Homo sapiens: one gene and its partners. The protein of the gene in region 4 interacts with the protein of the main gene of each other region in a pairwise test. Each region holds a gene or a part of one and is shown on either strand. Other genes may lie near its edges.

The links.
Region 1: the proteins of AQP10 (region 4) and PLP1 interact in binary tests that used the Homo sapiens proteins (3 or more experiments, as listed by UniProt).
Region 2: the proteins of AQP10 (region 4) and NEMP1 interact in binary tests that used the Homo sapiens proteins (3 or more experiments, as listed by UniProt).
Region 3: the proteins of AQP10 (region 4) and TMEM167B interact in binary tests that used the Homo sapiens proteins (3 or more experiments, as listed by UniProt).

The regions. Positions count from the first base shown.
Region 1 is NC_000023.11:103,777,911-103,786,839, reverse strand, and holds part of PLP1 (myelin proteolipid protein), read right to left. Parts: intron 1,259-8,929; coding exon 1,072-1,258; intron 376-1,071; coding exon 114-375; intron 1-113.
Region 2 is NC_000012.12:57,068,178-57,077,106, forward strand, and holds part of NEMP1 (nuclear envelope integral membrane protein 1 isoform a precursor), read right to left. Parts: intron 4,736-8,929; coding exon 4,611-4,735; intron 2,717-4,610; coding exon 2,497-2,716; intron 1,130-2,496; coding exon 1,057-1,129; intron 1-1,056. UniProt on the Homo sapiens protein: Together with EMD, contributes to nuclear envelope stiffness in germ cells. Required for female fertility. Essential for normal erythropoiesis. Required for efficient nuclear envelope opening and enucleation during the late stages of erythroblast maturation.
Region 3 is NC_000001.11:109,092,384-109,097,983, reverse strand, and holds the end of TMEM167B (protein kish-B isoform 1 precursor), read right to left. Parts: intron 5,095-5,600; coding exon 4,963-5,094; coding exon of another isoform or gene 4,902-4,962; intron 3,568-4,901; coding exon 3,485-3,567; coding exon of another isoform or gene 3,405-3,484; 3' UTR 1,050-3,404; downstream 1-1,049. UniProt on the Homo sapiens protein: Involved in the early part of the secretory pathway.
Region 4 is NC_000001.11:154,315,211-154,324,092, forward strand, and holds the start of AQP10 (aquaporin-10), read left to right. Parts: upstream 1-5,882; 5' UTR 5,883-5,945; coding exon 5,946-6,050; intron 6,051-6,719; coding exon of another isoform or gene 6,720-6,722; coding exon 6,723-6,849; intron 6,850-7,771; coding exon 7,772-7,909; intron 7,910-8,030; coding exon 8,031-8,149; intron 8,150-8,378; coding exon 8,379-8,596; intron 8,597-8,882. UniProt on the Homo sapiens protein: Aquaglyceroporins form homotetrameric transmembrane channels, with each monomer independently mediating glycerol and water transport across the plasma membrane along their osmotic gradient. Could also be permeable to urea.

The DNA of each region.
Region 1 (8,929 bases), on a different chromosome or scaffold from region 4:
TCAAATGCCAGGCCCCTAGAGAGGACCCAGCCTTGGGTGGGGACGAGGCCACAGACTCGCGCCCAATTTTCCCCCACCCCTTGTTATTGCCACAAAATCCTGAGGATGATCACCTTGTCGGGATGTCCTAGCCATTTTCCCAAACAATGACACACCCGCTCCAAAGAATGAGCTTGATGTTGGCCTCTGGAACCCCTCCCCTTCTGGCCCCCTGTTACCGTTGCGCTCAGGCCCTTGCCGCAGATGGTGGTCTTGTAGTCGCCAAAGATCTGCCTGACTGCGCCGGTGGTGTAGAAGCCCTCAGCCAGCAGGAGGGCCCCATAAAGGAAGAAGAAAGAGGCAGTTCCATAGATGACATACTGGAAGGCATGGATCCTGCATTAACAGGTAGACAAACGAGACCAGGGAATCTTATTAATTGAAGACCTGGCTTCTTTCCCGACATAAGTGAGGTATACACCAGAGCGAGCACCTTAACAAGGCTAGGGATTTTCTAGAGGAATCACCAGGTTCCTCCTGCATGCTTTCACCTTATCTTTGTTGAAATAAGTGAAGACAGGGTGTATGTGACCAGAAACATATGCCCCTCCCGCCACACCTTGCTTACCCTGGGACCTGGAGAACCAGGGACCTACTCTCCCTGCCCCACCCTTCAGACATGCTAACTCACAGGAGTAGGGAGCTAGACAAGAAGAAAGGTGGGTGAAGGAACAGGAGCCTAACTTGTTCTAGGAACAGGAGAGGCTTAGTGCCTCCCTTGGCTTCTCCATACCTACTACGCTGGAGGCTCCAACTTGGGCAATATGAACCACACCTAGCAGAAGTCAGAACACGTGTAAGAAAACAAGGGGGCGGGGGTGGGAGGGGCTGACAGGCAGGCAGGCAGACCCCTCCTTTCTGAATGGGCTTCGAATGTGGAGCAGGAGAGATCTGCACAGAGGGAAGACTCGGGAATCCGGTCTGGCTCCACCCCAGTCCCCTGCTAGTTACTAAGGTACTGAAGAGTTCTCTATCTCCAGGATGGAGAGAGGGAAAAAAAAGATGGGTCTGTGTGGGAGGGCAGGTACTTACACATTGATGAGATACTCATAGTCTTGGTAGTTTTTGGAGAAATAGGTCTCAATTAGCTTTTCTGTGCCAGTGAGGGCTTCATGTCCACAGCCACAGAACAGTGCCACCCCAAAGAAACACAATCCAGTGGCCACCAGGGAAGCAAAGGGGGCCCCTACCAGACATCTTGCACAGCACTCTAACAAGCCTGGGGAAGAAGAAGGGGAAACAGTCAGGCACATCCAGTAGGTAGCTCATGCCACTCAAACCCCTCTGCCAGGCCCTGTGCTCACAGGCTCGGAGATAGTGGGCACTCCGAAGTCAAAAAGCAGGAGCGGCTAGAGGTTTTGGCTTTCAGCATGTGAGATTGACCCAGAATCCTTACTTTGTTTCATTCTTGAAAATAAATCTTTGGCCGGGCACGGTGGCTCATGCCTGTAATCCCAGCACTTTGGGAGGCTGAGGCAGGTGGATCACATGAGGTCAGGAGTTCAAGACCAGCCTGGCCAACATGGCAAAACCCCGTCTCTACTAAAAATACAAAAATTAGCCGGGCATGGGCGTATGCCTGTAATCCCAGCTACTCAGGAGGCTGAGACAGGAGAATCTGTTAAACCCAGGAGGAGGCGGAGGTTGCCGTGAGCCAAGATTGCGCCATTGTACTCCAGCCTGGGCAGTAAGAGCGAGACTCTGTCTCAAGAAAAAAAAAAAGAAAGAAAGAAAATAAATCCTTACCTTTTATTGCCAGAATTTAAAAAATATTTAATAAATAATAATAATTCAGCAATTCAAATAGCAAGCCAGAGAGATTATGAAATCAGTCCCTTCTTTCTTATTGTTCTAGTCTGTTTGTTTGCTTGCTTATTTTAGTCATTCATCAACTATTTATGGAATACTCACTATATGCCCAGCATTATGCTGGGTGTTATACGGGATATGAAGAGAGAAAAGACACAGACTCTGCCATATGGGAGTCTTTAATTTCCTGAGGAAGAATTAGCTAAGTAGACCTAATATTTTCAACTAACAATTCAGGCAGCCAAGTAAGTGGTAACAGAGGGTAAATGCACTTGGAGTTCCAGGAAGGGATGAGTGCAGGCCAGAGATGCTGGTATTGTCAGACAGGATTTTAGCATGAAGAGCATTCCAGGTGGAGGAAACTTTGGAAATTGGATGCTCCTGGACATTTTTGAGCATCGTGTGTATTTGTTGCAAAGAATGCTTGATTCTTCTTAGTTTACATATGGGAGGAGCAGTCCAAACAGGATGGAGCTAGCACAGGACAAGAAATGAAAATTGGAAAATAGGAGGTTTGATATTACTCCCAATAATAAAAATGCAGGCTTAATGATTTTGGACACTTTGTATGGCAGTTTTGTCCTCCTATAATGCAGCTTGGCTAATGTCCCCACCCTCAGTTATACGCTGAGATTCTGTCAAAACAGCTACAAACAGACTTTATACAAAGTCAGCAAAGCATGAAACATCTTTCTGGCACTAGAGGAACACACCAGGGCCTGGGAACACATGTGTCTTAAAGTGCTAAGAGTCCCTGAGATCCCCAGACCTGGTATCCCAGGCCCTATGCCAGTGTTGCTGAGAAACAGGAGAGGCACACAAGAAGTCACAGGCTCTGAAAGCAGCTGTGTTCCAAGTACTAGTCCCATGCTCTAAGATGTCATATGGAGTGAACCTTAGCAAATGCCAAGTAGATGACTGACTAGATGAGGAAAAGAATGGCTTCCTCTGGCCTCTCGGCCAGATCCCTAAAATGTAGAAGAAATGAGAATGTTAAGCTCTTCAGAAAAAATGTCTTAATTCATATGTATGTATATATATAAATATATGTATATATACCCACTGATTTTATATATCTATAAACACAGTATACACATGCACACACACAAATACTCAGCAAATGTACTGGGAAGCTGCTATTTTTGAATAAGCAGGTTGTGACAGCTTGTACAATAAAAATAAATTGTATTAATTACTTAGGCTTGGATTTTTGTATTCAAGCATTTCTCCAAGCCACACTCACTTTTCTATAGGGTACCAGGGAAAGGGGACTCCTTTTCCTGATTCTGTTAACATTAGTTACAGTTTGTTTTTAGCCCAGAGAGCATGAATACCTAGTGATTTACATGGCTGAATTGCATCAGTGTGAACAGATTTGGAAAGATCAAATTATCTCTGTCATGGGAAAATCGAGGTAGAGGCATTTGCCTCTGTTCTCAGAGACACAAAAGGAGTGAGTCCTATTACCCACCATCCCCTGAAATGACAGCCCTTTCTTGGCCTTCAAAGAGTGTCACACCAAAGATGAGCCTCAGAAGCCCAAGCCAAACAAAGTAAGCAGCTAACATTTGGAGCAGAACTTCCTTTTCCAAGAACTAAAGCATTGCTGCCAGGAAACTTGGCCTCTATAAGAAGCAATCTGTAGCTGTGCTGCTGTGAGTGGAGGCTGAGTTTACTCAGCATGAACTTTGCAAACGTGCTTGGGAAGAGTGTCTTTTCAGAGCTGGCCCATGGGTGTGTCTGTGTGTGTGCACACGCACATGCATGCATGTGTACAAATGTGCACATACACACATGTATACCACAGAGAAAAACACAACAACTGAAATCGATTGTTGTTCTCAGAAAACATTCCAGAAATTGATCTTCCTCTTTCTCAACAGGTTAAGATACTAGATTCAGCCTATAAGTCAAGAAAAGGAGCTTAGAAGTAAACAGTACTGCCATTTTCCTTCTCTGCCTATCCAACTCCTCCCCACCCCCAAACTCTTAGACTTTTCTAGTAAAGAAAGTCTCTGAAGCCTGGGGATGGGGGGAGAAGAAGGTCAGTGACCCCACTGTTCCCTTTCTCCCCAGCACAGGGTCAGGGCTTGGACAGAGCCCTCCATAGCTCCCCCGGACAAAGAAGCCTTGTTCTTTCCTGAGATCTCAGGAGCCTGATTGGTATTCCACAGGGGCCTGCAGCCGGGGGGTGGGGAGGGGGTCAGACTCAGGGAACAATGGCAGGACTGTTTGTTTAGCCGAGGGTAAGAAGAGCCATCCACCCTAGCAAGTGACCATCTTGGGCCTACTCACTCATCCCAGCATTTTCATCTGGGAAGGGCTAAGTGCTTGTGCAGGTATGGTCAGGGATGGAGGAACTTGAACTCTTGCTAGCCAAAAGAGAACTCCACTTTAAGCGTTAGGTGATGCCACCTCTAGGGTTGCAAAGATGAGAGGGAAACATCCTCTTGAGTGTATCTGATCCCTCAATCATCATCCAAATAACCTGAGAGTGTCATGGATTGTGTTCTTACTGGGTGATAAATGGCTAAGCCTTAGGAGCAATTCTGAGTCACCAGATCATAGCCTTTCTTTTTACATCCATTTTTCCTCTATTTTCTTAGAACTTGAATAACTTAGCATCCCCTTTTCTGCTCCACTACAGCTCAAAGCAAGGGACAAGAAAGAAGTAGGCTTTAATGAGTTTCTAATGTAAAGTCTGAAATAAATGACTTTAGATAAATCTATCACTATTAAGCTATAAACAATTCAGTAATATCAGCATAAGCATCAGATGTTCATCTCTTCACAACCTAGATGAAATGTTTGCTTTGGGGGCATTTAAGTTCAGCAGAAGTGAAGAATCTCAGTCAGTCTGTCCAAGCAAGAATCAGATTTTAGATTCTAACTGAGAAAAACTCAGAGCCTGCAAGAAATTATTTTTTCATCAAAGTAGTTGACAATCAAAGCATTCTGAGAAAAGATCCATTGGGCTCCCTTTGATTTTTCACAGTCCAAGAAATGTCCCTTGGGTATGTGTGAACAATAGCCTAAAGCCAAAAGCTCTCCATTTCAGAACCCCTCCTGGTTGAAAGGGTGTGAGTTTGATTCAAGAAGGCTGGAAGAGATTCTAGGGGAGAAGTTCCTTGGCTCTCTCAAGAGACATTCTCACATTTCCAGTCTAAGTACAGACTGCGAGATGAGAGAGTTGGCATAAAAGAACCATATAGTAATAACATTTCTCAATGCAACTCAGTCAGATTAAGCCACCTGACTTTGATGAAAGGTCATAGAGAAAAATAATGACCCCCTCCAGTGTTTTTCTTTCATTTCTGTTTATGTGAATTCAGTACAAGAATTAAGCACACTAGCAGTGACATAGACATTAGGAGAAACAGAAGGGAATTAAAAGGCCAGTCCCTTTCTTTAGAAAACTTGAAATCCTGTTGGGGTGAACAAACATATGTCTGTGAATCAAAATCTAAAGCTACCTATAAGCAAGTGTTAAAATGGATATAACGAAGTTGTGTGGGCAAAATGTAAGCAAAGGGAAAAGATCATGTCATGGTTGGCTACATTTGTATACAAACTCCCAAAACAAGTCTAATCAATCTGTGATAGTTGATACTCCAACTTTAAGCCCTTCTCACCAGCGCTCTTCACAGCGGTCTGACAGAGATCAACAGAACCAATGTGACTTACACAGATCCAGGTTCATCAAGGGACTGTGTTGATCCTGATGCTGTCTCTTTAAGCAGGCACCAAGAGCTCCCAACCCTCCCTCCCTCCTTTCCCATGCCCTGGGCCCGCCTCAAGGACCAGCTCCATGATGGAAATTCAGTGTGAATCTGGGAACTCATCAAAGGAAGGAGAGGAAGGGCTTTCATCGAAAGGAATGGTAGAAAGAGACCAATTGTACCCTGCACAATTCCCAGCCTGTCCCTTGAATCCAGCTGACAAAGGGAGAGATAGAAGAACCCTATACAATAGAGCTAAACAACAGGCAGGCTCATTGAGTGAGAAACTGGCCCCACCTCCCTAGGTCTCGAATCTGCACTACAGTCTTACCCTCCTCCCAGAACCCACCCCTTAACCTTACCCCATGAACAGAGGCCTCCTTGATCAGGGCCTGCAGTAGTTGACAAGGCCGAAATGCTAGAGCAGCCGTGACTGGTACTAGGGATGGATGGGGATCAGTGGGTGGGTTCTAGGAGTAAAACAACAATTATCAAGAGGTGCCAGAGACAAACAAAGACTTTTGCTTCGGGCCTCGTCCTGGTCAGACAATGCCCTGCCTATAATCTTGTCTTTCCTACATATCCCTTTTGATATCAGCACTTATATACCACATTCAAGTGCTGGAAAACAGTCCCGAAGTCTCTGGGGCCTGGGAATCCAAGCCTGCTGGATAGTCAAATCATGTGGACAAGGTTAACTAAAAAGGAATCTCAGCCTCCTCTTTGGACACGATTTAGTATTACCACGGCAACAGCATCTGGACTATCTTGTTTCCTATACTCCCCACTCCTCTTCAGACGCGCACACACACACACACACACACACACACACAGAGAGAGACAGAATGAATGATGTACACATTCCAATTTATGTGCAAGCATTGGGAAGCTGAGGTAGGACTTTGATTGTTAAAACTTATCCTTGGCACATTGTCTCCACCTTGCCCACGAATGGGAAGATGAAAGGGAAGTAACTGGTACTAGAGACAATAGTAGCCATACCTTGTTCCTCAGGTCAGTCTCCCACCATTTCCTCCTCTCTCCTTGTTGCAGTGTGAAGCTGATTTGGGGAACCTTATTCTCTTCCTTGGGACTCTTTTCTAGAGCCCTGCCTGGCAGACAGCTCAGAGGCCAGTGCAGAGCTGAGAGATAGCCCTCAGGGCCATTTTGCCGTAGGCAAGAGGGATTAATCAATCAGTACTTGCTGAGCTTTTGATGTAAGTTTGGCACTGAGTAGGCTCTGAAAGCAGGAAAGGAAGGAAAAGCTGCTCCATTCACCTACCATGGCTGCTGTGACCCTTCCTGATCATGTCACTGTCCTCACTTGGTCTTCTTTAGACCTGAAGTGCTGTGGGCAGGGAAGGCATTTCTACTGTTGCTTTCTTTCAAGACAAAGACCTGTACCCAGGGGATGGCTTTCAAGGCTTCAGGACGATAGACAAAAGCAATGGGGGAAAGTGATGTTACTGGCTGGAGTTCTACCTTAATGGGTTTGGAGACTATATTTCCCCTCCCACCCACCTCCCAGGGTTGAGGTTGTTATTACTCAGATCGCTCTGAGAGAGCAGTTCCAGTTGTCAGCCTGTTAAGTAAACTTCTGGCTTTCCTAGCTCAGAGCCAAGCCCAAGGCCCCCTAAAGCAGGGTAGACCTTTCAAACTGCCTGGCTTTCCAAGAACTCCTCTGGCTCTGCACGGCCAAAGGGAGAAGTGAGGTAGAGAAGGCTGCACTTGATTATTTTAGTCAGTGTCTCCAGGAAGACTAGGTGAACATGCTGGCTGGGATCTGGTTTATTTTTGGCTCCTGGTATTCTTGGGGCATTCTTGCCATTTTGATGGGACTCAGTTAGTCTTCGGGCATTTTATAAAACTGGACCCCCGCTCTGCCGCCACACTTTTTGCCTGGGCTACACCCACTTACTGCAAGCCAGCCAAAACTACACTGCTTGGCAAACAGCCACTTTTGGATGGAGGCATCACAGTCTGGTTACCAGGGTAACAGCCACTGTTCTCAGACGACAACAGGCTTGCAGACAATGTTTTGCTGTTCAATAATGGCATTGTGTTTCAGAGCAGAGAATAATCAGCTACTGCTCTTTTGCTCCTTTCTGGTTCCATCATTATCCCAAAGACTCACTTGGAACATTCCCCTTCCAAATCAAGGCAAAAATTAATGAGCTATCATTTTCCCCATAAATCTTTTGTGCAGACACTACTGAATCAGTGTTCCTCCTTGCTTCCAATCCTAAGGGATTCTATATGGTTGAAGTAGTAAGTTCCCTGTTCCTGGAGGTGATTAAGCAGAGGCTGTACGAACATTTAATTGGTTGTTGTAAAAATGAATCCCGCATTGAAGGTTGGCTCAGACAACTTCTAAAGTTCCTTCCAATCCCGGATTCCATGATACAATGTGTTTACTGCAATTGTTGAACAGCAGTGCACTCCACATCAGAAGTAGTGGCAGTCCAGTACCTTGTTAGAGATGATCTATAATTCAAAGTACTTTAGATACTCTGTTATTGAATAAATGAAAACTCAGTGGCTGCTCCATCATATGTACCTGGCCCAAGTATCGTCCACCCTTAGGACCTGGGACCCAATGTGCATCCTCAATCGTGCCCTTATCTGTGGCACTCTTCCTCTGGAGGAAACCACCCAGCCTCCATAACAGGCAATTGTCCCTGTGGTCACTTTATTTGTTCCTGCCTTTCCTCAGGGATTTCATCCCCTGAGGAAGTAATATTCAACATCCTTCTTTACTCCCTCTCTGTTTTTAATGCACAACCTATCCAGTCAGCTCGGCTGACATTAGATAGGATTCCTGATGTTACCCAGGGCAGGAATTGAGTTCCTCCAACATTCACCTCTCATCTGGTCACACATAATTGGTCAAATGATTCTGACCCAAGCACGCAAAGAAAACCCAACCACCCTGGAAAGAGGAAGAGTTCGCCTGTATACACATTATTGTCTAATAGTAGGTATTATCATGATTTACAGTTGTTATAGATCTTGCCCATTTTCAAAGGACTTTGACATTATTGTTACTTGATTCTCACAACCCTGAAAGTAGACAAAGTAGTTATTGCTGTCCCCATTTTCCAGATGAGGAAGTGGTGATTCAGTGACCTGTCCAAGGTCACATAGTTCATAAGTAGCAGATCTGGGATTTGAATCTGATTTTTCCGACTCCCTGTCCAGTGCTCTCCCTCCTGTTTTACCTGAACACATGCTTCAAAGTGTTCTCTCTGTGTTTCATGATGAAACAACCTAAAGGCTGAACCAGCTCAGTATAATTGCAAATTGATCTCTGTGGATGTTGTCTACTGGATGCTACATTTGATAGGGAATACATGGGGCAACTG
Region 2 (8,929 bases), on a different chromosome or scaffold from region 4:
TTAATCTTGCATTCACTACTCCACAAATACTTTTTACTTGTATACAAACTTAATGTTGATTTTACCTTCATTCAATGTTTATTTAGTTACCTATATATTTTCTTCATATTTGTACATGTCAGTCTCACCTGTCTTAACTAGTAGGTTCCTAAAGGAAAAAATGAATAAACACTTGATTTTTTTTTTTTTTTTTAAACAGGGTCTCCCTCTGTGGCCCAGGTTGAAGTACAGTGGTGTGATCTTGGCTCACCGCAACCTCCGCCTCCAGGCTCAAGCGGTTCTCGTGCCTTAGCCTCTCGAGTAACTGGGATCACAGGCACATACCACCACGTCCAGCTAATTTTTGTATAGACAGGGTTTTGCCATGTTGCCCAGGCTGAGCTGTGATATTTGTTTCCTTTTTTTTGAGATGGAGTCTTGCTCTGTTGCCCAGGCTGGAGCACAGTGGCACGATCTCGGCTCACTGCAAGCTCCACCTCCTGGGTTCACGCCATTCTCCTGCCTCAGCCTCACAAGTAGCTGGGACTACAGGCGCCCGCCACCACGCCTGGCTAATTTTTTTGCATTTTCAGTAGAGATGGGGTTTCACCGTGTTAGCCAGGATGGTCTCGATCTCCTGACCTCATGATCCGCCAGCCTTGGCCTCCCAAAGTGCTGTGATTACAGGCGTGAGCCACCGTACCCAGAAGCTATTTGTTTCTTTACGTCTGAACAAAATGAAACTCATCAACCCATGGACCTGTAAAGATGACACCTTAACACATTACTTCTAGCAATAGAAAGGGTGATGATGTTCCATTTCATTGTATTGGCTAACTCCTATCAACCTAATGATGGGCCAACCTAATGTGGGAATTTCACTATTGTCAACATTGTTCAAATAAGAAAAAACAAAAATCATAATACACATTAAAGTATTTTTTTAAATATCCAAGCAGGCAACGGCCAAGCCATAAAGGTCCTGGAAATGGGAATGGCAGTACTTAATAGTTACTATAAAACGCAGGCAGGATAGGTATGAGCCGTTTCATTCTGCACACTAGCCTTGGAACCTACCTGCTCAGCAAGTCTCCACAAAAAAATAGCATAAGTCCAAGAAGGAAAACAAGAAAGAGTTTGGGATCAAATCCTGAAATAAATAAAGATTTTTGCTTAATAAGGGAACAAAACTGCTTAAGGTATTATAGAATAAAAGACAACGTTGGCACTATTGGTCAGCTACAGTAAAAATAAATGCAAACAGCCCACCTAAAAAGCATTTAAATTTCACCTAAAGCCTGGGCACCCTTCCAATGTATAATTAGGTCTCTGTCTAACCTGTATTTGCCTGAAGATCTTACTTTTACTTAGGCTACCTATGCTAAGGTTAAAAGAAACTCAAGCTTCGTTTTGGACAAAGCTAGACACAGTACCATCAGCAATTCATGCAATCACCCACAAGGGGTCTCTATCACTCTGGCTTTCAAGCTTTAAGTCACTCACAGTCATGGAACTCAGCAGATTTGCCCAGAACTGTGGGTCAGGGCCTTGTGTTGTTCTCTAACTGGCTGCTTTTCTTGCCCAACAATACCACCTACTTCCCTTTGCTACAGAACACTGTGCTGGAAAAGCCTACACGCAAATACCTCTCACTCAGGACCAGGGGGCCCTAGCAAAGGCCCCTTAGTGGCATACCAGATACTCCCACAGCTTTCACATTCAAGAGTTCTACGGGAGGCCCACAAACAGAACAGGAGCAGAAGGAATCAGTAACTGTAGAAGGAACGTCAAAAAACAAGCCAACCCTACGTAACCAAAGAACCCTAGGACAAATGGAAGGGCACAACCTATTTCATACTAAACCTAGAAACATTTCTACTACTTACAACATCCCAGGACCCTGTGTAGTAACCAAGGGGAAACAAAGTCAGAGAGAATTCAACAGGATCCATCTCCCCTGAAACTTTCTCAGTCATCTTCAGAAAAGAGAAAACTTCTCCCAGTTCCACTGAATAAGTTTTAAACTGCAGTGGTCTTCATCTTTATTTATGGTTCCATGAATACTCTTTTTACTTGTGAATGATTTTCAATTTTACCTTTCTTCAATTTTTATTAACCATTCACGTCTTTAAATGTAGGCATGTACACATCAGACAGTTACCTTTGTCTAGAAGTGTCCAGAAGGTAGAACACGTCTATCTGATTTACTCTAAGAGTATTTGGCATATATGCTCAGGGACATTAGCAGCACAATGTAATTGGGAATAAAAGAATAAAAGTCTTCACAGTTCCAGGTAAGGAGGTACTCAGAATTTCCTGAGGTGGAGTTTCAATTCTAGGCCTGTCTGATAGGGGTGAAGTCTCCATGAACTGTTTAGAGCAGTGGTATACTCAGGGTTATAATCAGAACCCAACTGGAGCTGTCTTAGGCTGACTTCTCAGTCTCACTAATTATACCCTTCAGAACTCAGTCCTTATCACTACAGAATCCATCAGAAAAACAGAGGTGAGACTTACTCCGGATCACAATGACACTGTACTTGGTGTCCTTCTCTATAATCTCAACTTTGAGGCAGGTTTTTGTGCTGTATAGACCCACGTTAACATAGGTGTCATTCAATTTCTCTTTTAAAAAGGAGGAAAAAAAGTTCCAGATACTAAACTGCTCTAGCTCCTTCAGTTTCTCCTCATTCTCCACCTGGGTGACTCGAACCAATCTGGAACTATTTACTCGGATCTGTAACACAAATAAAATCAGGATGAGAAAAAAGGAAGTAGGAATTTTAATTTTTCACAAATACAATTTTTTAAAAAACCCTCAGACTAACAACCAAATCAGTAATGGTGCCAGTTTTCCACAAAGCTTATCAGAAATATAGAAATACAGTGGCTAAAACATAATTGGGCAAATAACACTGCACATGTTACAGAGAGACAGCTGTTAGAATACCTTCTTGTTAACATGATCTGAATCTACTATTAGGGCAGAACATAGAGGGAAAAAAGACTTCCAAACTGAAAGAGTTATCAATACAGCTATTTATTAGAGATCACACAAAGCAAAGGTCTATAATATTAAGAAAATTGCCAGGCATAAACTGCCCCAGAAAACTAAAAATGTTTTCCGTAATGACAGGCTGAGTTCAATCCATTGTCACAAGCCACTGATTATGAGTAAATGTTGGTTATAATGTGCCCCAGATGGAGTATCACTTTTTTATCAGATAATTTTTTTTTTTGAGATGGAGTCTCGCTCTGTCGCCCAAGCTGGAGTGCAGTGACATGACTTCAGCTCACTGCAACCGCCACCTCCTGGATTCAAGCGATTCTTCTGCCTCAGCCTCCTGAGTAGCTGGGACTACAGGGTGTGCGCCACCATGCCCAGTTAATTTTTGTATTTTTAGTAGAGACGGGGTTTCACCATATTGGCCAGGCTGGTCTCGAACTCCTGACCTCAAGTGATTTGCCCGCCTCAGCCTCCCAAAGTGCTGAGATTACAGGCATGAGCCACTGCGCCCGGCTTGTCAGACATTTTTTTTAAAGAATTTTTTTTAAAAATCCACAAGTTGGCTGGGCATGGCCCCCAGCTACTCAAGAGGCAGAGGTTGCAGGGAGCCGAGGTCGTGCCACTGCACTCCAGCCTGGGTGACTGAGCGAGACTCCGTCTCAAAAAAAAAAAACAAATCCACAAGTCCACCCTTATGTTTTTGATGTGAACAACAAATGTCCTTATCAGTAACTATGCTTATAACAACTACGACATTTCTGAAAGGACCTATTTTGTACAATCACTGTTACAGCCAGACATTCCTGTTTGCCAGGTGACTTAACAGTGTTATGAAATAAATGAGACCAAAGTAATTCTTCAGCTCGGGGGTTTATGAAATATCTCATATAGAATCAGAATAGGAACAGTGGGGCAAAAGAGTTTACATCCTCACAGGCACATAACAGTTTCCAGCCCAAAGAAGGCATAAGGCCTTTAAAAAGAAAGAAGGGGGCTGGGTGCGATAGCTCATGCCTATAATCCCAACACCTTGGGAGGCCAAGGTGGGCAGATCACCTGAGGGCAGGAGTTTCAGACCAGCCTGGCCAACATGATGAAACCCCATCTCTACAAAAAATACAAAAAAATTGGTCAGGTGTGGTGGCGTATGCCTGTAATCCCAGCTACTTGGGAGGCTGAGGCAGGAGAATCGCTTGAACCCGGGAGGCAGAGATTGCAGTGAGCCAAGATGGTGCCACTGCACTCCAGCCTGGGCGACAGAGGGAGACTCTGCCTCAAAAAATAAAAAATAAAAATAAAAAAAGAAAGAGGGGTATGTGTGCGTGCACACACACATACTGCAAAATGAAGGACAAGAAAACAAAGCAGTTTCTTTGGGAAAAGGAGGGAGGAGGAAAGAAGTTTACCTTAGAATACCGTAATCTACTTGAGGGAGCAGAGAGGAATACAAAGTAGGCATAAATGCTTATTGATGAAAACACAACTCAGGATAATCTCAACCCTAACAAGATTGTTAACAACATTTTTTTTAAGCATGTGAAGGGGAAGAAAGTGTCAAAATACTCACTAATCACCAACAGAAATTTACAGAAGCTGCCACTGCCAGAGGATTCCAAGTTATTACCTGTATCCGTGTCCATATATCATGCCATTTTGGGATAAGCACATTTGTGTAACAGAATTGTTGGCTGGCACGCTTTTCACAAACTTGGGATTCCTGAAGCATGACCACATTTACATCAGTTTCAGCTTTATGCAAAGAAAGGAAACAAGAATTAAACATAACAAGCTAATAACTATAACTCATTTCATGAAAAAGATTAAACTAACCATTTTCCTAAACTTTGGGTTAAAACATTAGCCAGACTGAGAAATAAGAAAAAAAACTGAGAAGAAGGAAGAACTAAGGCAGAATCTTATTTCTGTCGTTTAATTATTTAAATATTACACAGTCATTCAGTCAGAAAAGTAATAATAAAAACTACTATTAAGTATCTATTTTTTTTTTTTTTTGAGACAGTCTCGCTCTTTTGCCCAGGCCGGACTGCAGTGGGGCTATCTTGGTTCACTGCAAGCTCCGCCCCCTGGGTTCACGCCATTCTCCTGCCTCAGCCTGTAGCTGGGACTACAGGCGCCCGCCACCGTGCCCGGCTAATTTTTTTTTTTGTATTAAGTATCTATTAAGACAGTATGCTGCCAGGCGCGGTGGCTCATGCCTGTAATCCCAGCACTTTGGGAGGCTGAGGTGGGCGGATGACCTGAGGTCAGAAGTTTGAGATCAGCCTGACCAATATGGAGAAACCCCCCCGTCTCTACTAAAATACAAAAACATTAGCCAGGCGTGGTGGCACATGCCTGTAATCCCAGCTACTCGAGAGGCTGAGGCAGGAGAATCACTTGAACTTGGGAGGCGGAGGTTGAGGTGAGCCGAGATCACGCCATTGCACCCCAGCCTGGGCAAAAAGAGCAAAACTCTGTCTCAAAAAAATAAAAAATAAATACATAAATAAAAGAGACAGTATGCTGTCTCATTTAATGCTCCCAACAATGCTATGAGGTAAGCACTCTCATAATCCCTATTTTATAAATGAGGAACTGATGTTTAAGAAAGATTAAGTAATTTGCTCCAAAATCACACAAATAGTAAATAGCCTATCTGAGATTCACCCCCAGGTCTGACTATGGTCTTAAACACTAGATATACTTCCTGTCCTATAAAGGAATAAAGTAAGCTAAACTACTCCATCTGTTGATTTTCTCTATCCCTTTCCTGAGTAGAACAGAATTGGCAGGTTTTTTATTTTATTTTTTTATTTTTTTTTTGAGACAGGGTCTGGCTCTGCTGCTCAGGCTGGAGTACAGTAATGTGATCATAGCTCATTGCAGCCTCAAACTCTTGGGCTCAAACAATCCTCCCACTTCAGCCTCCCAAGTAGCCAGGACTACAGGTATACACCACCACACCCAGCTAGTTTTTTTTTTTTTTAAAGAGACAAGGTCTTACTATGTTGCCCAGGCTGGTCTTGAACTCCTGGCCTAAAGCAATCCTCCCACATTGGCCTCCCAAAGCACCCACGCTGACCTCCCAAAGCACTGGGATTACAGATCTGCCACCATGCCCAGCCAGCATTTTTTTTTTTTTTTTTCAGACAGGGTCTCACTCTGTCACCCAGGCTGGAATACAGTGGTGCGATCTTGGCTCACTGCAACCTCTGCCTCCCAGGTTCCAGCGATTCTCCCACCTCAGCCTCCTGAGTAGCTGGCATTACAGGCATGAGCCAACTCAATTGGCTAACTTTTTTTGTGTGTGTGTATTTTTGTAGTAGAGATGGGGTTTCACCATGTTGGCCAGACTGATCTAGAACTCCTGGCCTCAACTGATCCACCCACCTCAGCCTCCCAAAGTGCTGGGATTACAGGCGTAAGCCACCACGCCCAGCCAGCAATATTTTTAATATATAGTACTTTTGGAGGATACTAAAAGATTTCAAGGTTGTTTCCTTCCAGCTGTTTTGTGTCACTTCAAATTTTAACAGCAGGCAATGATTACATGCAGTCCCTCTGATTTACCAAAACAGAAGATTCTCCTCTCAATTTGTATTTAATATCAGCTAATTCAAGATTTAAAAGTGACCACTGTCCAGCCGGGCATGGTGGCTCACACCTGAAATCCCAGCACTTGGGGAGGCCAAGGCAGACGGATCACTTGAGGTCAGGAGTTCAAAACCAGCCTGGCCAACATGGTGAAACCCCGTCTCTACTACAAATACAAAAAAATCAGCTGGGCATGGTGGCGGGCACCTGTAATCGCAGCTTCTTGGGAGGCTGAGGCAGAAGAATCGCTTGAACCTGGGAGGGGAGACTGCAGTGAGCCGAGATCGCGCCTCTGCACTCCAGCCTGGGTGACAGAGCAAGACTACGTCTCAAAAAAATAAATAAGGGGCTGGGCGCCGTGGCTCACACCTGTAATCCCACCACTTTGGGAGGCCGAGGCAGGTGGATCACCAGGTCAGCAGATTGAAACCATCCTGGCTAACAAGGTGAAACCCCATCTCTACTAAAAGCACAAAAAAAATTAGCTGGGTACGGTGGCGGGCGCCTGTAGTCCCAGCTACTTGGGAGGCTGAGGCAGGAGAATGGCATGAACCCGGGAAGTGGAGCTTGCAGTGAGCCAAGATCACACCACTGCACTCCAGCCTGGGCGACAGAGCAAGACTCCATTTCAATATAAATAAATAAATAAATAAATAAATAAATAAATAAATAAATAGTTGGGAGCCAAGATCACACCACTGCACTCCGGCCTGGGCGACAGAGCAAGACTCCATCTCAATATCAATAAATAAATAAATAAATAAATAAATAAATAAATAGTTGGGCCCAGGCGTGGTGGCTCACGCCTGTAGTCCCAGGACTTTGGGAAGCCAAGGTGAGGGGATTGCCTGACCTCAGGAGTTTGAGACCAGCCTGGCCAACATGATGAAACCCCATCTCTACAAAAAAAAAAAGAAAAAAAAATAAGGCCAGGCACGGTGGCTCACACCTGTAATCCCAGCACTTTGGGAGGCTGAGGCGGGCAGATCATTTGAGGTCAGGAGTTTGAGACCAGCCTGGCCAACATGGCGAAATCCCACTCTACTAAAAATACAAAAAAATTACCCGGGCATGGTGGCACACACCTGTAATCCCAGCACTTTGGGAGGCTGAGGCGGGCAGATCACTTGAGGTCAGGAGTTTGAGACCAGCCTGGCCAACATGGCGAAATCCCACTCTACTAAAAATACAAAAAAATTACCCGGGCATGGTGGCACACACCTGTAATCCCAGCTACTCGGGAGGGTGAGGTAGGAGAATCGCTTGAACCTAGGTGGCCGAGATGGCACCACTGCACTCCAGCCTGGGCAACAGAGCAAGACTCCATCTCAAAAAAATAAATAAATAAATAAATAAAAATGTATACACAAAGATGTTCACAAACTTACAACAATGAAAAACTAGAAATACCACAAATATCCAACCAACAGTACAAACCACCAATATCCAACCAAATGTTTAATCCACAACATTAATAATGATTTTTACCAGGCAGATGGCACGTGCCTGTAGTCCCAGCTACTTGGGGAGACCGAGGTGGGAAGTTACAGTGAGCTATGATTGTGCACTGCACTCTAGCCTGGGTGTCACAGCAAAACCACGTCACTAAAAAATAATAAATGAAGGCCAGGCATGGTGGCTCACGCCTGTAATCCCAGTACTTTGGTAGGCTGAGGCGGGCGGAACACCTGAGGTCAGGAGTTCGAGACCAACCTAGCCAACATGGTGAAACCCCATCTCTACTAAAAATACAAAATTAGCTGAGTGTGGCTGGGCGTGGTGGCTCACGCCTGTAATCCCAGCACTTTGGGAGGCTGAGGTGGGCAGATCACGAGGTCAGGAGTTTGAGACCAGCCTGGCCAGCCTGGTGAAACCCCGTCTGTACAAAAAATACAAAAAGTTAGCCAGGCATGGTGGCATGCGCCTATAATCCCAGCTACTCGGGAGGCAGAGGGAGAAGTGCTTGAACTCTGGAGGCTGAGGTTGCAGTGAGCCTAGATAGTGCCATTGCACTCCAGCCTAGGCAACGAGGGCGAAACTCTGTCTCAAAAAAAAAAAAATTAGCCGAGTGTGGTGGCACATGCCTGTAGTCCCAGCTACTTGGGAGGCTGAGATGGGAGAATGGCTTGAAACAGGAACCGAGATTGCACCACTGCACTCCAGCCTGGGCCAGACAGCAAGACTACATTCTGCGGGGCGGGGCGGGCGGGGGGTGGAGAAAAAAAATTAAATGAACATCTGCACATACATTGGAATGTAATACAAGTAAGACAACATTTACAAAGAATTTTAAGGCCGGGTGTGGAGGCTCATGCCTGTAATCCCAGCACTTTGGGAGGCCGAGGCGGG
Region 3 (5,600 bases), about 45 Mb from region 4:
GAGAGCCCTAAGTCTGCCCACAACTTAATGCTGTGGCACCCAAATTTTTGAGCCTTCATTTATGGTCATATCTATTAAAACATACGTTGACTTCCAAGTTCCAGAATGAGTAGAGTGTAAAATAGCAGTGGTTATATAAGCAGAATTAGCTCCTCTCACATTAGAAAGCATAATTTTAATGGCTCAATTCCTTCTTTTTCCTTTTTCAATGAAATGGGTGTTGGGGGGTAGAAATCAGAAGAATTTTGGAGAGTAGTACAAAATGATTTAAGTTCTAATTTGTACTTGTGCCAGTCTCACCAGGCACTTGAAATAAACAAATAAGGGGGAAAGTACCCATTGTATGTGCCAGAATCCCGCTGGCTCAAGGATTTTTTTTATTTTTTATTTTTTTTTTGAGACGGAGTCTCGCTCTGTCACCTAGCCTGGAGTGCAGTGACACATTCTTTTTTCGTATTTTTAGTAGAGACAGAGTTTCACCATGTTGGGCAGACTGGTCTCGAACACCTAACGTCAAGTGATCCACCCGCTTCAGCCTCCCAAAGTCTGGCTCAAGGATTTTCTAGGTGTCTGGCTGGTTAACTTGTTAACTTCATTTGAATGAAGATGTTTATGACTGTTTAGAGCAGATGATACTTGTATTTTAATAGCAATAGCAGATGGAATGTATTGGGGGTGCTATCTACCTTATTTCATTCATATACCTCAATACTTATTCATTCACATATATATGAATATCTTATTCGTATATATATGAAAACTTACTACATGCATTTATATTTAGTTATATATATCTCAGCATATCATATATACATATATATATCTAGTTATAGATATCTCTAGATATATCTGTCTCAGCTGCCCTAAAGGAGAAAACTAGGCCATCATAGATTCTTAACTATATAATACATTCAATGCTCTCACAATGGGATAACAGGAATGATGGTATTTACTAATGTGAACTAAAAAGGTAGGCTATGAACTGAACCCAGGGGAGGACTGAACAAACTTCAATAAATTCAGCATGTGACAAATAAATTGACAAAGACTGTAGGGAAAAAAAGGTTTATTTTCAAGGATTTGTGCAGACAATGGTGAATAAAAAATTGTATTTCAACTATAAAAAGGAGCTGACTTCATTCCACCCTGGCCTACAGGGTTTATGGTGATGCCAGTTTGAATCTGAGGCAATACTGCTATCCCCATTCCTCCACCTGTAAAAGATTCCCCCAGAGGAATAACATTCTATAACTTTTAGTCAAAAATATGTAAGACACATCAAACAAAGTAATGAGTTAAACAAGTTTCTGCTTATCTGCTTAGGGAAAGTCAAGAAATGAAACAAATGTATATTTGTTTCTGGCTGTAAATTACCTTTACCTTGTGCACTTTTTGGTACATTCTGGTATGAAAACCTCTCAAAATGTAACAACACAAGAGTTTGGGTCAAGACGACCCACCCAGGAGGCTGTAAAAACTGGTTTGAACTAGAACTGTGGAATGGAACTAGTTTAAAATATGAAGCAGCTCTAAACACCAAGCTTAGAGACATTTGCCCTATTAGAAAACAAAAATCATTAAAGCTACAAAATAACAAGTGCAAACATGCTGAACCTGTTTCCAGGGAGTGACATTCCCTTCTGCCAACAGGTCCCAAACTCACACCCACAAGGTGTAACTCTCTTTCCTGTTCCACTAGATTTCCTTTCTCTCATCTCAAAGGTCCTCAGAAATGACAATGGAAAACGTATGAATTGTTGAAATTTACCCTGTGGACCAATTCCTGAAGAGATAACAGCCACAACTCTGAGATGATTAGACATGCAGTGTTTACTTGATGACTTTCTGTATTTCTAGAAACCCTCAAAGCATTAAACTGCCTATTTCAAAATCTAAACTTCCTAGCAGCTTTTATTATTTGGAGTAAGCAGACAGAAGACAATTTACTGCCACACAGGAATCAACCACAGCTAACTTGTCCACCATTAAGTTTTACGGTAATGGACAATTCAACTGGAAGACCCATGTCTATGCTTGCTTATAATAATTTAATTTTAGACCTACTCTTTTTTTTTAAATAGAGAAGTTCTAGACATCCAACAGCTGATCCTTCCATAGATATAAGCAGGGAATGGAGAAGTCTTCCTGCCAAATGCTGAGCCATCTAAAATGGTCTGCTCAGGAGTTACTAACTCCATGGCAAAGTACTTCAGTATCAATTGCAAAGTTCTGTTTTCTTCTACTTCAGGAAACAACCTCATTTGATTTGTGGACCCTATGAACTGTCCAAACACACTGATGAATATCAGCAACTTCTCTCATTTGAATTTCTCATGTCCTTAAAGTAAATAGAATTTCCAGAGACAACTAAAGAGCAATGCAATATGAAGAAAATTAAAATTTGGCTAAGAAAAATAAGTAATCAACTAAAAATTGCCATAACACTCAGACTTAAACAGAAAATAAGTTTGTTGTCTTTTATAAGATGACAAAACTTCAATCTAACATCACAAGTTCTTATACTAGATGAATTTACTAGTATATGAATCAATATACTAGATTTCTTTCTTCTACCCCAACTGCAAATATACTAAACAATTATTTCTTCAATAGTTTCTTTTTCCCCTAGTCGTGGCATTTAAAACTGAGTAACAGTATTTAGCACTAAGTAAATTTAGAAAATATAAAAAGGTTTTACGAAATAGCAATAGTTGATTCATTTTTCATATACCATCTGATCAAGTGAAGTCTCCATTTGAGGATACTGGTGAACAGAAAGATTTTTTCTTGTCTAAGCCACTGCTTTCTGGTCTCATCACACAGATAATTCTCAAATTTTATGTAGGCCCAGATTTTCTTGGCAAAACTCTCAAGATACCAGCACATAACACAGCTACTTCATCTGTTCTCTTTTTGCAATGAGCACTATGCCTCTCTTTTATGTTCCCGGATGGGTACATGAAAGATAAATTTCTAAAGCCAAAGAATTTCTTGGCATTTCATAACTGTTTCCCACCCAGCATCCCCTCCCCAATTTGCCAGATCCAAATCAAAGAGTGAAAAGAAGTCTTGAAAATTCTCTCTCTTCAAAAGAAGTCTGAACACAGCCTAGTTCCTTCCCTAATGAGCCTCAGTTTGAAAAGATCCTGATGAGGAGCTGAAGAACAAAACAGGATGACAGGTTTTTATGAAGGAGGTATGTAATCTTATCACCGAGGGGTGTAATTTATCCGGACATTATATGCACTCTGCCAAGGACTGATTTACACATAGATCAAAGGAAGCTGGCTTTCTGTAGTCCCCTGAAGCATAAATAATGTTCGTGACCATGAGTTTTCCCCACATATAGCAGGGGCAGATGCTGTGGTGTCATCCTGGGGACCGATGATTTCAGCTGAACTCTCCTACACTGGGTTCAGGTCTCCAACAGGTTCTTCATCCCCGTCCCCTTGGTTGGCAGTTGATGACTTGGGTGCTTTGGAATTCATTTTATAAACAGGACGTAAAAGGCCATTACAACACAAGCAATTGCCACAGCAGCATGCAGCCTGGTTCCAATCACAGCGGCTAGCAGGCAAAAGAGAGAAGAAATCACACCCTGCCCTTCACCGAAGTCCTCACTTTCAAGGTGATATTTTGAAGTCTCTAGTCACAGACAGACATATCAACGCTCTCAAGGGCCTGGGATGTTTTTATTTTATTTTTGGAGGCAGTCTCACTCTGTCGGCCAGGCTGGAGTGCAGTGGCGCGATCTCGGCTCACTGCAACCTCTGCCACCCGGGTTCAAGCAATTCTCCTGCCTCAGCCTCTTGAGTAGCTGAGATTACAGGCGCCTGCCACCATGCCCAGCTAATTTTTGTATTTTTAGTAGAGATGGGGTTTCACCATCTTGGCCAGGCTGGTCTTGAACTCTTGACCTCAGGTGATCCACCCACCTTGGCCTCCTAAAGTGCTGGAATTACAGGCGTGAGCCACCGTGCCCGGCTCCCTGGCTAATTTTTGTATTTTTAGTAGAGACAGGGTTTCACCATGTTGGCCAGGCTGGTCTCGAACTCCTGACCTTGGGTGATCTGCCCTCCTCGGCCTCCCAAAGTGTTGGGATTACAGGCATGAGCCACCGCATCCGGCCTCTGAGATGTTTCTAAATGCTATCCTTATGCTTTAGGGTCTAGGTGAATATACTGTTTGTTTATATTTTGTCCTTTTTCAAAAAAAAATTTAGGTAGATAGGATTCCAAATGAATGTGCCTCAAATAAAAAGTACAAAAAAGCATCTGAGTTAATTAACTCAAACCTTAAAACAGACTCCAATGTACCATTTACAGAAAATCAAGAAAAATTTTCCGTAGAAAAATTTTTTTCCCACTGAAGGGAGGAATTCCACCCCAGCCTAAAATGATTTGATGTGTATACTTTTACTCCATGGAGAATACAAAAATCATCTGGATGCTAAAATAGACAATTATGTTTTTAAATAATTTTTTTTTTTTTTGAGACAGGGTCTCACCCTGTCACCTGGGCTGGAGTGCAGTGGCTCCACCATGGCTCACTGCAGCCTCAACCTCCTAGGCTCAAGCAATCCTCCCACCTCAGTCTCCTGAGTAACTGGGACTACAGGCACGTGCCACCATACCTGGCTAATTTTTGTATATTTTGTAGAAATGGGGTCTCACTGTGTTGCCCGGGCTGATCTACAACTCCTGGACACAAGCAATCCTCCTGCCTTGGCCCCCCAAAGTGCTGAGATTATAGGCATGAGCCATCACACCCAGCAAATTTTAACTTTTACCTCTTCCCTCAACTTTGGAGAATGATTAATTTTCCAGACTCTCAGACCCAATCGGAGGGATTTTTTTCTAAAAATGAAACCAAATATAATCCCAGCTCACTGTACTCCCTACTTTGTAGCTCCACACTGTCCAGAGATGGCAGTCTCTTCTCCCTGTCCAGACATGGCCTCACCTTTGTAAAACACACCCCAAACACCCTTCTTCTCTGATAGCAGCCAGGTTTTGAGACGAGGTACTTTCTTGAAGTAGGCACAGGTGCAAACAAAGAGCAAACCAAACACCAGAATCCCATCCAAGGAGTACACTGTTAAATAAAGAAGAAAAGAAAACCTTAGGTACTGATCTAGCGTCGGACCTGTGATCCCGCCTGAGAACTCTAAGGAAGATAGTGTGTGACATAATAACAAAATAATAACCTCAACAGGCAGTACTGACACTTGACAAGGGGGAGCCAGGATCCTGGGACTAACACGATTATTTTACTGTTCCCAAAAATTGCTTGTAGGAGGAAGGGGGATCAATTGAGCCCAGGAGTTCGAGGCTGCAATGAACTACGATCATGCCACTGCACTGTAGCCTGAGCAACAGAGTGAGACCCCAACTCAAAAAAAAATTTTTTTTTTTACATCCCCTTTACTAAAATGTCACTGGTCCTTCCCCTCACCTTTCAAGAAGTAGAAATCCTGGGCAGAAATTAGCATCCCAGGAATGACTAGTGTTGGCAATAGATTGAGACATATGAATCCTTAGAGACTCAGCACAGAGAATTTAACATGTTCTTGTTATAAATCACTCATATGATAAAGGAGA
Region 4 (8,882 bases):
ACCCTTTATTTAGTTCATGTGACTTAAGTAATCTTTGGGAAATAAATACAGTTTTAAAGATTATTGGTAAAATAAAAAATCTTCAAAAATGTAAACATTTTGTCCGGGTGCGGTGGCTCATGCTTGTAATCTCAGCACTTTGGGAGGCCAAGGCGGGCAGATCATTTGAGCTCAGGATTTCGAGACCAGCCTGGCCAACATGGTGAAACCCCATCTCTACTAAAAATACAAAAATTAGGTGTAGTGGTGCAAGCCTGTAGTCCCAGCTACTTGGGAGGCTGAGGGAGGAGAATTGCTTGAACCCGGGAGGCAGAGGCTGCAGTGAGCCGAGATTGAGCGACTGCACTCCAGCCTGGGTGATGGAGCGAGACTCTGACTAAAAAGAAACAAACAAACAAACAAAAAAAAATGTAAACATTTGGTCTAAATTATACAGGTCAGATATTAAGTTTGCTAAATTCTTTAAGGTCATAAGCTGCTTCTTTGACTATTAAAAATTGTTCAATTTTAGGCTGGGTGCAGTAGCTCACGCCTGTAATTCCAGCACTTTGGGAGGCTGAGGCAGGCAGATCACAAGGTCAGGAGTTCAAGACTAACCTGGCCAACATGGTGAAACCCCATCTCTACTAAAAATACCAAAAAATTAGCCAGGCATGGTGGTGCGCACCTGTAATTCCAGCTACTCAGGAGGCTGAGGCAGTAGAATCACTTGAACCCAGGAGGCAGAGGTTGCAGTGAGCCGAGATCATGCCATTGCACTCCAGCCTGGGCAACAGAGGGAGACTCTGTCTTAAAAAAACAAAAAAACCCAAAAAACAAAAAACAACAACAACAAAAAAAATTGTTCAGTTTATCTACTTTGGAGCATTAGATTAAATGTGTTATTGGTACATGTTCCAAAATTATGAGAAATTCCTATAATTCTAATATGACTTAGCGTATGTTATTAATAATTGTTACATAAAATTTTGTATGCAACAGAAGTAACCAAAATTTCCTAGTTAATTGTGGCTTTACTAGTGGCTGTCCTAAGACTTTTTTTTTTTTTTTTTTGAGACAGATTCTTGCTCTGTCACCCAGGCTGGAGTGCAGTGGCACGATCTCAGCTCACTGCAACCTCTGCCTCCTGGGTTCAAGCACTTCCTCTGCTTCAGCCTCCTGAGTAGCTGGGATTATGGGCACCTGCCCTATGCGGCTAATTTTTGGATTTTTGGTGGTGACGGGGTTTCACCATGTTGGCCAGGCTGGTCTCAAACTCCTGACCTCAAATGTTCCACCTGCCTCCGCCTCCCAAAGTGCTGGGATTACAGATGTGAACCACTGCACCTGGCCCTAAGACTTTTTATCATCCACAGACAATTGTTGTCTTGTTTTGATCTTCTTTAGAAGGTAGTTTATAATCAGCCATAGGACTTTAACAGGTGCACTTAAATGCAGGTTTCTGATAACTTTGGAGATTGTGACATTAGAATAGAGGAAACAACTTTCAGAACTCTCATGGGGAGCTGAAATGTTCATAGATATCAAACAAAAGTTAACTGCATAAACTAAAGAAGACTAAAGCAATCTTTTTGCCTTTGCTTAAAACATTGCTGATCCTTTGTTTTATTTTTTAGAGTCAAGGCAACTTTTCTTTTCAGATATTTACAGCTTTTAATAATCGAGTAAAGTATACTCCTGTGAACAAAATTTGGAGTATATGCATCTCTCTACTTGATTTCTCCAGAATTTGGAAATTATTTGTGTGTATTCTTAATTTATGGCAATGCAGTTATTTGCATAAGGGTAATAAGAATCTGTTTTCTTTTGCAACAGGACACAATTGGAGAAATTGTTTATTTTATGAAGGGTTTGACTGGAATGGTGTGCTTTCCATTAAGGAATCAAACTTGACTTGTAAAGCCTATAAAAGCCACTTAGCGACCTGGGCTCATAACCTTGCCTACACAGTCCCTGTACAGGGTTTCTGACCTGTGGTAAGTAAAGAATGTCACCTTCTAAAAGGTCCAGGAGCCCCAAGTTATCTGGGGACCTCAAAAGGAGAGGAAGAATTTACCCAACTCAAAGGTATTTGAGGGCACAAACCCATGGCAGGGCTCAGCTTTAAAAAGTCTTATCCAAGATTCTTTCTATGGAACAGAGTTCCATCAAAGCCAATTTTAAAAGCCTACGTGAAAAATAATTATTCTTGCTGCACTTTATACAATCATCAGGCCAAGTATAATAAAGCACATTGGTCTTACCATAAAAATGGTCTTTCATAAAAATGGGAAACTGGAGAGAGAAAAATTATGTTTCAAGAACTATGATACACTTGTTATTAAATTCCAGTCTCATCAGTTGTCTTTAAGTTTGTTTCTGCAATTTAGGCTAACCCTGCTTAGTCCTGTGAACCAACCAGTGGCCTCTGACTGCTGCTCAGAAGAAACAAGAGGGATGGGTAATGTAAAAATCTGCATCAATATTCTAATTCTGGGCATGTACTGGAATCATCTAGCAACCTCATATCAGCGTGGTTCCAACAGTTCCTCAGTTCATGGAAAGCCTTCTAGTTTAGTTTACTTGGGATAATTTTACTTATTTTGCTTTATGGTTGTGGAATGTATAGCTGTTGTAATCTTTGTATAGGAATGGAGGACAAGCTTACTGAATGTTTCCTTAAACTGAACACTTATGAATCTTCCAGAGTATCACCTTTTGTCAGAACTCATGAGTTATGAATGGCCCTCAAGATACCAATGCTTTTTCTTCCCTTCCCTTCCCTTCCCTTCTTTTCTTTTCTTTCAGATGGAGTTTCATTCTTTCAGGCTGGAGTGCAATGGCACAGTCTTGGCTCACTGCAACCTCCGCCTCCCAGGTTCAAGAGATTCTCCTGCCTCAGCCTCCTGAGTAGCTAGGGTTACAGGCACCCGCCACCACATCTGGCTATTTTTTTTGTATTTTTTAGTAGAGACAGTGTTGCACCATGTTGGCCAGGCTGGTCTGAACTCCTGACCTCAGGTGATCCGCCTGCCTCAGCCTCCCAAAGTGTTGGGATTACAGGCATGAGCCATCCCGCCTGGCCCATACCAACACTTTCCAACTGAGCTCCTCTCTACCACGAATATGAGAGATTCTAAGAGTTAGGCAAAAATATCATCGCCCCTATTCATCCTGAAGAACTTACAGAAGATGGACCTTCGTCCCTCTGCAACCCTTAGGATTAGTGCTTCTCTTATAAAAGGAAGGGGGGAAATGTCAGAGGCACGTGAACCAGAGCAAGTCTATTTTGAACAAGAGCTGAGTAAAATGAGAATGAGACTTACTGGGCTGCATTCCCAGATGGTTAAAGCATTCTAAGTTACAGAATGAGATAGGAGGTTGCCATAAGATACAGGTCATGGCCGGGCATGGTGGCTCATGCCATGACAGTTTATAAATGCCATGACAATGACAGGAAGTTACCCTATATGGTCTAAAAAGGGGAGGCATGAATAATCCACCTCTTGTTTAGCATATCATCAAGAAACAACCATAAACATGGGCAACCAGCAGCCCTCGGGGCTGCTCTGTCTATGGAGTAGCCATTGTTTTATTCCTTTACTTTCCTAATAAACTTGCTTTCACTTTACTCTATGGACTCGCCCTGAATTCTTTTTTTCTTTTTTTTGAGGCGGAGTCTCGTTCTGTCACCCAGGCTGGAGTGCAGTGGTGCGATCTCGGCTCACTGCAACCTCCACCTCCCGGGTTCATGCCATTCTCCTGCCTCAGCCTCCCAAGTAGCTGGGACTACAGGCGCCCACCACCATGCCCGGCTAATTTTTTTGTATTTTTAATGGAGACGGGGTTTCACCATGTTAGCCAGGATGGTCTCAATCTCCTGACTTTGTGATCCCGCCTTGGCCTCCCAAAGTGCTAGGATTACAGGCATGAGCCGCCGCACTCAGCCTGAATTATTTCTAGTGTGAGATCCAAGAACCCTCTCTTGGGATCTGGATTCAGACCCCTTTCCTGTAACAAGATTAGGCACCAGGAGAAACTGACACACATGGATGATATAACAGATGCCTAAATGGATCCTATGGGGGAACTGGAGCTGGAACAGCCCTTTAGAGTTGTCGCAAAGTGAGGCAAAGAGGCTAGACTTTTATATCCCTCCATCAATCAGTGTTTGACATGGGCCCCATAGGAGGGCATGTAACCTTCGGTGAGGCATCTTTCTGACTTGAAGGGCATTGCCCAATGAGGGAGGTAGCTATGTGGTATCAGCAGCTGGTATTTCCTACATGTAGCGAATGGGCATATTGGCTCCCAAGGGGGAATCTGGGTGGAGCACTATAGTATCCATTAAACCTAGTAAAGAAATATTATTTCTTTACTAGTCACACAGATGTGCCCAGGACAGTGGTAGAGCCCACAGGGTTACATAAATCATAATGGTAGCCCTCAAGAACTTCATAAACTGTATATGGTATTTTAAAAAGTTGCATATTGTCTGTTTCCACCTACTAGAACATAAGCTCTAGGAGGGCAGAGACTATGTTTTGTTCACCACTGTTTCTCCAGTGTCTAGACGTAGATTCTTTGAATGCATTTAATTGGAGCCTTGAGATATGAAGAAGTAGGATGCGGTTACTTCATGCAGAGCAAGAGTGGCATGCACCCAGAGAAGGCCAGGTGGAGCTCAGCATGAGTGTGAAGGCCTCATGTCAAGCCATGTCAGGGGACACAAAGATGGAGTATTCTCTAACCTATGTGACACTCGGCATAAGGGAAGTACAAGCACTCAATATGTGAGTTTCATTCCCACAGTCTGTGGTCTTTAGCCCAGTCTTTCCAGATGCCTATTGAGTTCTTCAAGCATCCAAATGGTTTGGGGTAAGGCTTCAGGTTCTAAATGAGAGGCTTTGTGGGTTACCAGCTGGAGAGTCAGAAAATCTGGATTTGAATTCACTCAGCCATGAAATAATTGTGTGATCTTGGGCCGGGCACGGTGGCTCACGCTTGTAATCCCAGCACTTTGGGAGGCCAAGGAAGGTGAATCACTAGAGGTCAGGAGTTTGAGACCAGCCTGGCCAACATGGTGAAACCCCGTCTTTTTTTTTTTTTTTTTTTTTGAGACAAAGTCTCGCTCTGTTGCCAGGCTGGAGTGCAGTGGCACAATCTCGGCTCACTGCAACCTCCGCCTCCCTGGTTCAAGTGATTCCCCTGCCTCAGCCTCCCGAGTAGCTGGGACTACAGGCGTGCACCACCACGCTAATTTTTTTGTATTTTAGTAGAGATGGAGTTTCACCATGTTGGCCAGGATAGTCTTGATCTCCTGACCTCGTGATCTGCCTGCCTCGGCCTCCCGAGAAACCAAGTCTTTACTAAAAAATATCAAAATTAGCCAGGTGTGATGGACCTGTAGTCCCATCTACTTGGGAGGCTGAGGCAGGAGAATTGCTTGAACCTGGGAGGTGGAGGTTGCAGTAAGCTGAGATGGTGCCACTGCACTCCAGCCTGGGGGACAGAGCAAGACTCTCTCTCAGAAAAAAAAAAAAAAAAAGTTTGATCTTGGGGAGTTCTAAGGCCCACTAGCCTCATCTGTAGAATGGAAGCAATAGTACTACTTTGCAGAGCTGACTTCAGGACCAAGAGATCTAATGTCTATGAAGCGGGGTACTTCCTTCTATTTGTCAGGATGGGGGAGGCTAGTCCTGTGATGACTGGGAATGAAGGGTAAAAGAGACAGAGGTTGGGTAAACTCCAGGCTCTGTGTTCATAGCCTGCTCCCAGACATTCTCTTGTTATCTCTCTGTTTCCTAGCCTACACACGTGCACAGACACGTAGCTGCTGTTCAGGAACTGAGCTAATGGTTTTAAAGTCTGTTCCTTATCTTTGCTGGAGGCAGGCAGTAGCTGTGCAGTGACAGTGTGCCTATGCAGACAGAGGGAGCAGTGAATAGCAATAGGGTGTTTCCACCATGGTCTTCACTCAGGCCCCGGCTGAAATCATGGGCCACCTCCGGATACGCAGCCTCCTGGCCCGGCAGTGCCTGGCAGAGTTTCTGGGTGTGTTTGTACTCATGGTAGGTAGGATCACTGCGGGAAGGAAAGAAGGGGGTTGGGCAAAAGTTCCTGGCTCCTTCTGTTGTCCTTATCTCTTTCTCTTGGTGTCCCCCTTCCTCTCAACTCCCTATCACTTTTCGTTTTTATCCTCTCGTCTCTCCTAATCTCCTTTCCTCTCCTACTTCATCATTTTTATTCTTGTCATTTTTATTCTTTCTTTAATAACAAGTGTATCATAGTTCTTGAAACATAATTTTTCTCTCTTCAGTTTCCCATTTTTATGAAAGACCATTTTCATGGTAAGACCAATGTGCTTTATTATACTTGGCCTGATGATTGTATAAAGTGCAGCAAGAATAATTATTTTTCACATAGGCTTTTAAAATTGGCTTTGATGGAACTCTTCCATAGAAAGAATCTTAGATAAGACTTTTTAAAGCTGAGCCCTGCCATGGGTTTGTACCCTCAAATGCCTATGAGTTGGGTAAATTCTTTTCTTTTTTCCCACATTCTTTCCCTTTCTTCTTCCTCCACTTTCCCCATTTCTTTTCCCTTCCCTCCTTCTGCTTTTCTCCTTCCCTTGCTTGTCTTCTGTGCTCATTCATCTCCTTGGCTGCTCCCCTGGCCTTCCCAACCTTTCTCCCTGTTGGTCTCCTGGGCTCCCTGTTCCTCATCTCTCCTCTTCTCAGCAGCTCCTCACCCAAGGAGCTGTGGCCCAGGCTGTCACCAGTGGAGAAACCAAAGGCAACTTCTTCACCATGTTTCTGGCTGGCTCTCTGGCCGTTACGATAGCCATCTACGTGGGTGGTAACGTCTCAGGTGAGGAGGGTGGGGTCTGGTCATCAGAGCACGTGGGATGTGCATGCCAGTTTGTCTGTCTGGTGATGGTGGAAACGCAAATCCTTCTGTGACTCGTGGACATTATCCCCTTGAACAGTGTCCCAGACTGAAATAAGCCTTTGGCCCCACCAGCCCCTCCTCTTTCTGTATCTCTCCATCCTGCTTCCTCACACTAATGCTTGGCTCACCTAGACAGAAATCAATGGCAGGGCACGAAGGGCAGCTGCTATCCTCTTGTATCCCCCACCTGAAGTCCTCTGGGGGCTCATCTCCACTCAGGACCTCTCCTGTTTGTACCCCAGATACACACTGCATCGGTGTGCTTGGGTGGAGCCTTGAGACATAGTGTGTTGCTGTGGAAAAAGCAGACAGACCTAGGTTCCAACTTTGGATTCACAGTGTCTTCTTCTTTTTTTTTTTTTTTTTTCTTTTTTTTTGAGATGGAGTTTCACTCTGTTGCCCAGGCTGGAGAGCAGTGGTGTGATGTCTGTTCACTGCAACCTCTGCCCCTGGGTTCACGCGATTCTCCTGCCTCAGCATCCCGAATAGCTGATTTTACAGGCACCTGCTACCACGCCTGGCTAATATTTGTGTTTTTAGTGGAAACGGGGTTTCACCATGTTGGCCAGGCTGGTCTGGAATTCCTGACCTCAAGTGATCCACTGCCTCGGCCTCCCAAAGTGCTGGGATTACAGGCGTGAGCCACTGTGCCTGGCCCACAGTGTGACTTTGCTAAGTCACTTAACATCTGTAACATCTGGAGCCTCAATTTCCTAAGCTGTGTGATGAGAATTACACTATCTGCCTTAAGAGCTATAGGAAGGAGCAGTAGTGTTGTCTGGTGACAATGCCTGGCAGTGACACTTAATAGATGCTCTTTTTCTTTCCTTGATACTTGAAGGGGCCCACCTGAATCCAGCCTTCTCCCTGGCCATGTGCATCGTTGGACGCCTCCCCTGGGTCAAGCTCCCCATTTACATCTTGGTGCAGTTGCTGTCTGCTTTCTGTGCTTCGGGAGCCACCTATGTTCTCTACCATGGTGACAGAGGGAACAGAGGGAGCTGTGCCTTGAGAGCACCTGTGGGTGGGCAGGGGTGCCTCAGAATGGTTTTGGATGAATGAGCAAAGAGGGAAATCCTGGGTGTTCCCTTCCTCCACAGATGCCCTACAGAACTATACAGGTGGGAACCTGACAGTGACTGGCCCCAAGGAGACAGCCTCCATTTTTGCCACCTATCCTGCCCCCTATCTGTCCCTGAACAATGGCTTCCTGGATCAGGTAAGTGTGAGGGGGAGACCTGGGGACACTACTTTGGTCCTGTTCCTCGGCACCCCAGCCTATTGTTCAGTCTCTGGGTGGAGTGTGGGTTGGGTCTATCTTGGCACTCCCCACCATCCCCAACTGCCTGTGTTGCACAAAGCCAGATGACATGGAATATTTGGATGAGAGAGGGCAGATGGAGCACCTGGCAGCTGACAGGGAACCCTCTGCCTCTGTTGACTCCAAGGTTCTGGGCACTGGGATGCTGATTGTGGGGCTCTTGGCCATCCTGGACAGACGGAACAAGGGAGTCCCTGCGGGTCTGGAGCCTGTGGTGGTGGGGATGCTGATCCTGGCCCTCGGGTTATCCATGGGTGCCAACTGCGGGATTCCACTCAACCCTGCCCGGGACCTGGGCCCACGTCTCTTCACCTACGTGGCTGGCTGGGGTCCTGAAGTCTTCAGGTGGGAGACAGACTCTCCTGGTGCTGGCCTCCACTCACCTTCCTCTGCTAAGGGCTCTGTCCCTGGGTCCACAGCACTCTGCCTTTAAAATAGCTCTCTTGGCTTCTTAGGACAGTGTTCTTTCTCCAAGTCATATTCTCCCCCTTTCTCCCTTGCTTCCCTCCCAACTTTTCACTGAAACAGTAAGATTTAGAGGTTGTGTTCTTAGGCATGCCACATTACTTCCATGCACATTAGTGACTTCATCAGCAAAATTAATATATTCAGATAATTCCCTAAGGCAAGA